Homo sapiens: one gene and its partner. The protein of the gene in region 2 interacts with the protein of the main gene of each other region in a pairwise test. Each region holds a gene or a part of one and is shown on either strand. Other genes may lie near its edges. The genes, in order: SOD2 and CYP4F12.

The links.
Region 1: the proteins of CYP4F12 (region 2) and SOD2 interact in a two-hybrid assay, tested with the Homo sapiens proteins (one large-scale study listed by BioGRID and IntAct).

Annotation. Positions count from the first base shown.
Region 1 is NC_000006.12:159,672,516-159,676,330, forward strand, and holds part of SOD2 (superoxide dismutase [Mn], mitochondrial isoform A precursor), read right to left. Parts: 3' UTR 1-3,815. UniProt on the Homo sapiens protein: Destroys superoxide anion radicals which are normally produced within the cells and which are toxic to biological systems.
Region 2 is NC_000019.10:15,682,773-15,686,587, forward strand, and holds part of CYP4F12 (cytochrome P450 4F12), read left to right. Parts: intron 1-720; coding exon 721-991; intron 992-2,043; coding exon 2,044-2,110; intron 2,111-2,295; coding exon 2,296-2,425; intron 2,426-3,815. UniProt on the Homo sapiens protein: A cytochrome P450 monooxygenase involved in the metabolism of endogenous polyunsaturated fatty acids (PUFAs).

The DNA of each region.
Region 1 (3,815 bases), on a different chromosome or scaffold from region 2:
AAAATCCTTTACAAACAAGCAAATGCTGAGAGATTTTGTCACCACCAGGCCTGCCTTACAAGAGCTCCTGAAGGAAGCACTAAACATGGAATGGAACAACCAGTATCAGCCACTGCAAAAACATGCCAAATTGTAAAGACCATTGAGGCTAGGAAGAAACTGCATCAACTAACGAGCAAAATAACCAGTGAACATCCTAGTGACAGGATCAAATTCACACATAACAATATTAACCTTAAATGTAAATGGGCTAAATGCTCCAATTAAAAGACACAGACTGGCACACTGGATAAAGAGTCAAGACCCATCAGGGTGCTGTATTCAGGAAACCCATCTCACGTACAGAGACACACACACATAGGCTCAAAATAAAAGGATGGAGGAAGATCTACCAAGCAAACGGAAAACAAAAAAAAAGGCCGGGGTTGCAATCCTAGTCTCTGATAAAACAGACTTTAAACCAACAAAGATCAAAAGAGACAAAGAAGGCCATTACATGATAGTAAAGGGATCAATTCAACAAGAAGAGCTAACTATCTTAAATATATATGCACCCAATACAGGAGCACCCAGATTCATAAACCAAGTCCTTAGAGACCTACAAAGAGATTTAGACTCCCACACAATAACAATGGGAGACTCTAACACCCCACTGTCAATATTAGACAGATCAACGAGACAGAAAGTTAACAAGGATATCCAGGAATTGAATTCAGCTCTGCACCAAGCAGACCTAATAGACATCTACAGAACTCTCCACCCCAAATCAACAGAATATACATTCTTCTCAGCACCACATCGCACCTATTCCAAAATTGACCACATAGTTGGAAGTAAAGCACTCCTCAGCAAATGTAAAAGAACAGAAATTATAACATACTGTCTCAGACCACAGTGCAATCAAACTAGAACTCAGGATTAAGAAACTCACTCAAAACCACTCAGCTACATGGAAACTGAACAACCTGCTCCTGAATGACTACTGGGTACATAACAAAATGAAGGCAGAAATAAAGATGTTCTTTGAAACCAACGAGAACAAAGACACAACATACCAGAATCTCTGGGACACATTTAAAGCAGTGTGTAGAGGGAAATTTACAGCACTAAGTGCCCACAAGAGAAAGCAGGAAAGATCTAAAATTGACACTCTAACATCACAATTAAAAATATTAGAGAAGCAAGAGCAAACACATTCAACAGCTAGCAGAAGACAAGAAATAACTAAGATCAGAGCAGAACTGAAGGAGACAGAGACACAAAAAAACCTTCAAAAAATGAATGAATCCAGGAGCTGGTTTTTTGAAAAGATAAACACAATTGATAGACCGCTAGCAAGACTAATAAACAAGAAAAGAGAGAAGAATCAAATAAATGCAATAAAAAATGATAAAGTGGATATCACCACCAATCCCACAGAAATACAGAGTACACAGAGAATACTATAAACACCTCTATGCAAATAAACTAGAAAATCTAGAAGAAATAGATAAATTCCTGGACACATACACCCTCTCAAAACTAAACCAGGAAGAAGTTTAATCCCTGAATAGACCAATAACAGGCTCTGAAATTGAGGCAATAATTAATAGCCTACCAACCAAAAAAAGTCCAGGACAAGATGGATTCACAGCCGAATTCTACCAGAGGTACAAGGAAGAGCTGGTACCATTCCTTCTGAAACTATTCCAATCAATAGAAAAAGAGGGAATCCTCCCTAACTCATTTTATGAAGCCAGCATCATCCTGATACCAAAGCCTGGCAGAGACATAACAAAAAAAGAGAACTTTAGACCAATATCCCTGATGAAAATCAATGCAAAAATCCTCAATAAAATACTGGCAAACTGAATCCAGCAGCATATCAAAAAGCTTATCCACCATGATCAAGTGGGCTTCATCCCTGGGATGCAAGGCTGGTTCAACATACACAAATCAATAAAAGTAATCCAGCATATAAACAGAACCAAAGACAAAAACCACATGATTATCTCAACAGATGCAGAAAAGGCCTTGGACAAAATTCAACAGCCCTTCATGCTAAAAACTCTCAATGAATTAGGTATTGATGGGACATATCTCAAAATAATAAGAGCTATCTATGACAAACCCACAGCCAATATCAGACTGAATGGGCAAAAACTGGAAGCATTCCCTTTGAAAACTGGCACAAGACAGGGATGCCCTCTCTCACCACTCCTATTCAACATAGTGTTGGAAGTTCTGGCCAGGGCCATCAGGCAGGAGAAAGAAATAAAGGGTATTCAATAAGGAAAAGAGGAAGTCAAATTGTCCCTGTTTGCAGATGACATGATTTTATATTTAGAAAACCCCATCATCTCAGCCCAAAATCTCCTTAATTTGATAAGCAACTTCAGCAAAATCTCAGGATACAAAATCAATGTGCAAAAATCACAAGCATTCTTATACACCAACAACAGACAAACAGAGAGCCAAATCATGAGTGAACTCCCATTCACAACTGCCTCAAAGAGAATAAAATACCTAGGAATCCAACTTACAAGGGATGTGAAGGACCTCTTCAAGGAGAACTACAAACCACTGCTCAAGGAAATAAAAGAGGACACAAACAAATGGAAGAACATTCCATGCTCATGGATAGGAAGAATCAATATCGTGAAAATGGCTATACTGCCCAAGGTAATTTATAGATTCAATGCCATCCCCATCAAGCTACCCATGACTTTCTTCATAGAATTGGAAAAAACTACTTTAAAGTTCATGTGGAACCAAAAAAGAGCCTGCACTGCCAAAACGATCCTAAGCCAAAAGAACAAAGCTGGAGGCATCACGCTACCTGATTTCAAACTATACTACAAGGCTGCAGTAACCAAAACAGCATGGTACTAGTACCAAAACAGAGATATAGACCAATGGAACAGAACAGAGCCCTCAGAAATAATACCACACATCTACAACTATCTGATCTTTGAGAAACCTGACAAAAACAAGAAATGGGGAAAGGATTCCCTATTTAATAAATGGTGCTGGGAAAACTGGCTAGCCACATGTAGAAAGCTGAAACTGGATCCCTTCCTTACACCTTATACAAAAATTAATTCAAGATGGATTAAAGACTTAAATGTTAGACCTAAAACCATAAAAACCCTAGAAGAAAACCTATGCAGTACCATTCAGGACACAGGCATGGGCAAGGACTTCATGTCTAAAACACCAAAAGCAATGGCAACAGAAGCCAAAATTGACAAATGGGATCTCATTAAACTCAAGAGCTTCTGCACAGCAAAAGAAACTACCATCAGAGTGAACAGGCAACCTACAAAATGGGAGAAAATTTTTGCAATCTACTCATCTGACAAAGGGCTAATATCCAGAATCTACAAGGAACTCAAACAAACTTACAAGAAAAAAACAAACCCCATCAAAAAGTAGGTGAAGGATATGAAGAGACACTTCTCAAAAGAAGACATCCATGCATCCAACAGACACATGAAAAAAATGCTCATCATCATGGGCCATCAGAGAAATGCAAATCAAAACCACAATGAGATACCATCTCACACCAGTTAGAATGTCAATCATTAAAAAGTCAGGAAACAACAGGTGCTGGAGAGGATGTGGAGAAATAGGAACACTTTTACACTGGTGGTGGGACTGTAAACTAGTTCAACCATTGTGGAAGACAGTGTGGCGATTCCTCAGGGATCTAGAACTAGAAATACCATTTGACCCAGCCATCCCATTACTGGGTATATACCCAAAGGATTATAAATCATGCTGCTATAAAGACACATGCACACGTATATTTATTGTGGCACTGTTCACAATAGCAA
Region 2 (3,815 bases):
CTGAAAATCAGGAAAAGTGGTATGAAGTTTATCAAGACATTTCCAGAGACCTTTTGTAGTTTCAGCTGATGATGGATGTGATAAGAGCTGAGCTGTGTGGGAAACTGATAGCCCACCACCACGCCCAGCTAATTTCTGTATTTTCAGTAGAGAGGGGGTTCACCATGTTGTCCAGGCTGGTCTCAAATTCCTGACCTCAGGTGATGTGCCCTCTTTGGCCTCAGAAAATGTTGGGATTACAGGCATGAGCCACTGTGCCCAGCTGCTTCTTCTTTCTTACAGGGTGAAAGAGAGAGGGAGAGAGAGAGAGACAGAGAGACAGAGAGAGAGAGAGAGAAAGAGAGAGAGAGTTGGTTATGCTGGGGGCTGGAGCAGGGCTGAACTGGAAGAGGATGAAGTCTGAGTTGTGTGGACAGTTTTGGTAAGGAAAATGATCAGTACTGCATACTGGATGGGAGACAGAGGAGAGAAGCATGGTGTCCAAGCTATACTCTAGGTGCCTAGGTGCATGGAGACAGCTCTCTCAGAGATAGGATGCAGGGAGAGAAGACAGTCTAGAGAGTCAGTCTCATGACTGATACCCACCATGTATCTCTAGGACCATCTATTTCTAGATACTCAGTTTCCTGATGGGAGGTAGCTCCTGGCTGCTGGTGGGAGGTGTTCCTGGGGCTTTGCATACGTTACATTGTTGCCTCCCTTTCTGCCCTTGCTCTGCAGGAGGCCCAGTGAATATATTGCCACCATCTTGGAGCTCAGTGCCCTTGTAGAGAAAAGAAGCCAGCATATCCTCCAGCACATGGACTTTCTGTATTACCTCTCCCATGACGGGCGGCGCTTCCACAGGGCCTGCCGCCTGGTGCATGACTTCACAGACGCTGTCATCCGGGAGCGGCGTCGCACCCTCCCCACTCAGGGTATTGATGATTTTTTCAAAGACAAAGCCAAGTCCAAGACTTTGGATTTCATTGATGTGCTTCTGCTGAGCAAGGTAGGTTTCTCTATGATCTGAATTTAGGTGAGAGAATAGAGCTTCATGTCAAATGTCAGGTGAAATAAATTGGTTTTGATCCAAAGGGCACTGGGAGCCATGGAAGATGCTTGAGAAAGGGAAGGTCACAGATAGGTTTTAGAGATGACTTTATTGCATGCAGCCCACAGGGCACTGCTAATTCTGAAACTGTGAGGAGCATGATATTTTATTCAACTTATAAGTTAGTGTGTTAGTCTTTCACATTTTTATGTGTATCTATATGTCTATGTCTTTGTCTATGTCTGTATCTATGATAAAAGATGCACCAAACCCCTGGATCACAGCAGCCCATTAATTATTTACAGCAGTAACAGCAGGTGGAGTAGGATGGTAGTGCTGGCTCCCCATTCCTAGGGCAACACAATGTTTTTACCTGTAAATGCACAAGAATTTGCACCAAGGAGAGGGGCCCCCACATTATGAGTATTATAGCTTATATAGGACAGCTAGCTCATATGCTCCTTCTTTATTACAGGGTGAAAGTTAGAGACAGAGAAAGAGAGAGAGAGAGAATGCTTTGTTCTGGCGTATAAACTACCCCTCTCCTGTGAGATGGCAATTTCTAGAGTTTTATAACCCAAATATCTTCTGGAAAGATAAGATTCTCTGGGTTTACCACTCTAGAATGTCAGCAAATATTTTTGGAGCAATACATAATTTCTAACCTCCAAGGCAAATTGCCATTCAAATATCCTGTACCCCAGGTTGCCAGTATCTTTTTCTCTGAAAGTCTGTATTATGCAGAAAAATGAAAATATTCGAGAACCATTGATTCCTGTCACCAGGGTCCAAAGAGGAGGCAAAGGATCTGGGGGAAGCCCTTGGAGTTGGGGCTTTGGTGATGGTGAACAAGAGAGATCTAGACGTGCAGAGTGCATTTGAGTTTCTGGAAGATCAGAGCTTCAGAGATTATCTCAGGTTAGACTCCGGAGTCTCAGAGATAGTATAATTTGTGTGTGTGTGTGTGTGTGTGTGTGTGTGTGTGTGTGTGTGTCTTGCTTTCTCTTCAGGATGAAGATGGGAAGGCATTGTCAGATGAGGATATAAGAGCAGAGGCTGACACCTTCATGTTTGGAGGTGAGGGTCCCAGTGTGGGACTACAGTGGAGACAGAGGTCCCTCCATCTCAGGATCCGGGTGGGTGGACCCTGGATCACTCCATTCTGCCCATCTTCCCCCTCCCTCCATCCTCCTGAGGGCCTCAATATCTGGGCGCTGTCCACCCTCCGGTGCTGAAGCCAAGCTTACCTGGCTGCTCCTCAGGCCATGACACCACGGCCAGTGGCCTCTCCTGGGTCCTGTACAACCTTGCGAGGCACCCAGAATACCAGGAGCGCTGCCGACAGGAGGTGCAAGAGCTTCTGAAGGACCGCGATCCTAAAGAGATTGAATGGTGAGTGCAAGTTCTTCTGGCCTGTTCCTGAGCCCATCATTGGTTCTGCTCCCCAAGTGAGGAGGGGTGGAGGAGTTGTTTTGTGGATTCTTCCACTATTGCTTAGTGGGTATAAAAGCAGAGGACCACAGGCAGGGCTTGATACCAAGCCTGGCTGTCAGGGGAAAAGTTGCAGGCCTTTAGGACCGAAAGACCCGGGCTGCTAAGAGAATTGGTGACAATGTGTGAGGACAGATAATGCTACTTTGCACATGTTCAGCAAATGAACTTCCCCTCCACTCTGTTTCTGTTCTCCCAGAAATATCAGTTTTTTCGAAAATCCTCACTTCTTGAATGTTTGCTCAGGTGGGGAGGGAGAAGTTGTTTTTGTCAATTCTTCCATTATTGCTTAGTAGTACTAGGAGCAGAGCACAGAGGCAGAACTTGGTATCCAACCTGGCTAGCAGGGGAAAGTTTTCAGACTTTTGGGACAGAGAGTCCTAGCCCGCTGAGAGAACTAAGGACAATATATGAAGGCAGACGATGACATCTAGACATGTTCAGTCAATGAATTTTCCCTTCACTCCTTTCTTGTTTACTCTGAATTATCATATTTTTTTCAAACATCTTTACTTCCTGAATGTTTACTCTTCTGTTCCCTAATTCCTACCCTCCGGTCCAGTCCAGGGAGTCCTAAGGGAGACCTGGGGGTAAAAGTCATCTATCTTTTGTCTAGAACACCTGCATCGTTCATCCATTCAGTCTTCATTCAGCAAACTCTTCCACATGCCTTTCCATTGCCAGTTCTGTTCCCACACCTTTCTGTGCTCTGGAGACCTGGAAAGAACCCTGCCTATGGATGTGTTTTCCAGGTACTCCCAGCCTAGTAGGAACAGTCCCCCACAAGACATTCCCAGTCCACATAGGCAAGGATGGAGTTGAGAGCAAGAGAAGCATGGCTGGGAGTACAGAAAGTGTGATAGAAAGTGTTTCAAGCCAGATCTGGTGGCTGTCGCTTGTGATACCAAGTACCGAGGAGGCTGAAGTGGGATAATCACTTGAGGTCAGGTTTAAGATCAACCTGGGCAATATAGAAAGAACCCATTTCTAAAAAAGTAAAAAACCAAAATAATAAAGTGCCTCAACTGAAACCCTGAATGGTGATCAGTAGGTGTTTGGATGCAGTAGTGCCCTAGGTCAAAAAGAAAGTCTGGGCAAAAATGCAAAAAGAGGGAGCAGGAGAGAGGGAGAAGAGGGAAAGAGAGGTTTGTGTGTCAGGGAAGGAGATGGTTATAAAGGGAGGGAGAAGTAAGAGGGAGGAAAAGTGAGGGAGAGCAAGATAAAGAGAGGAGGGAAGACAGAAGGAGACAGAGAGAGAATGAGAGAGAAAGGAACTGAGTTGTGATGAGAT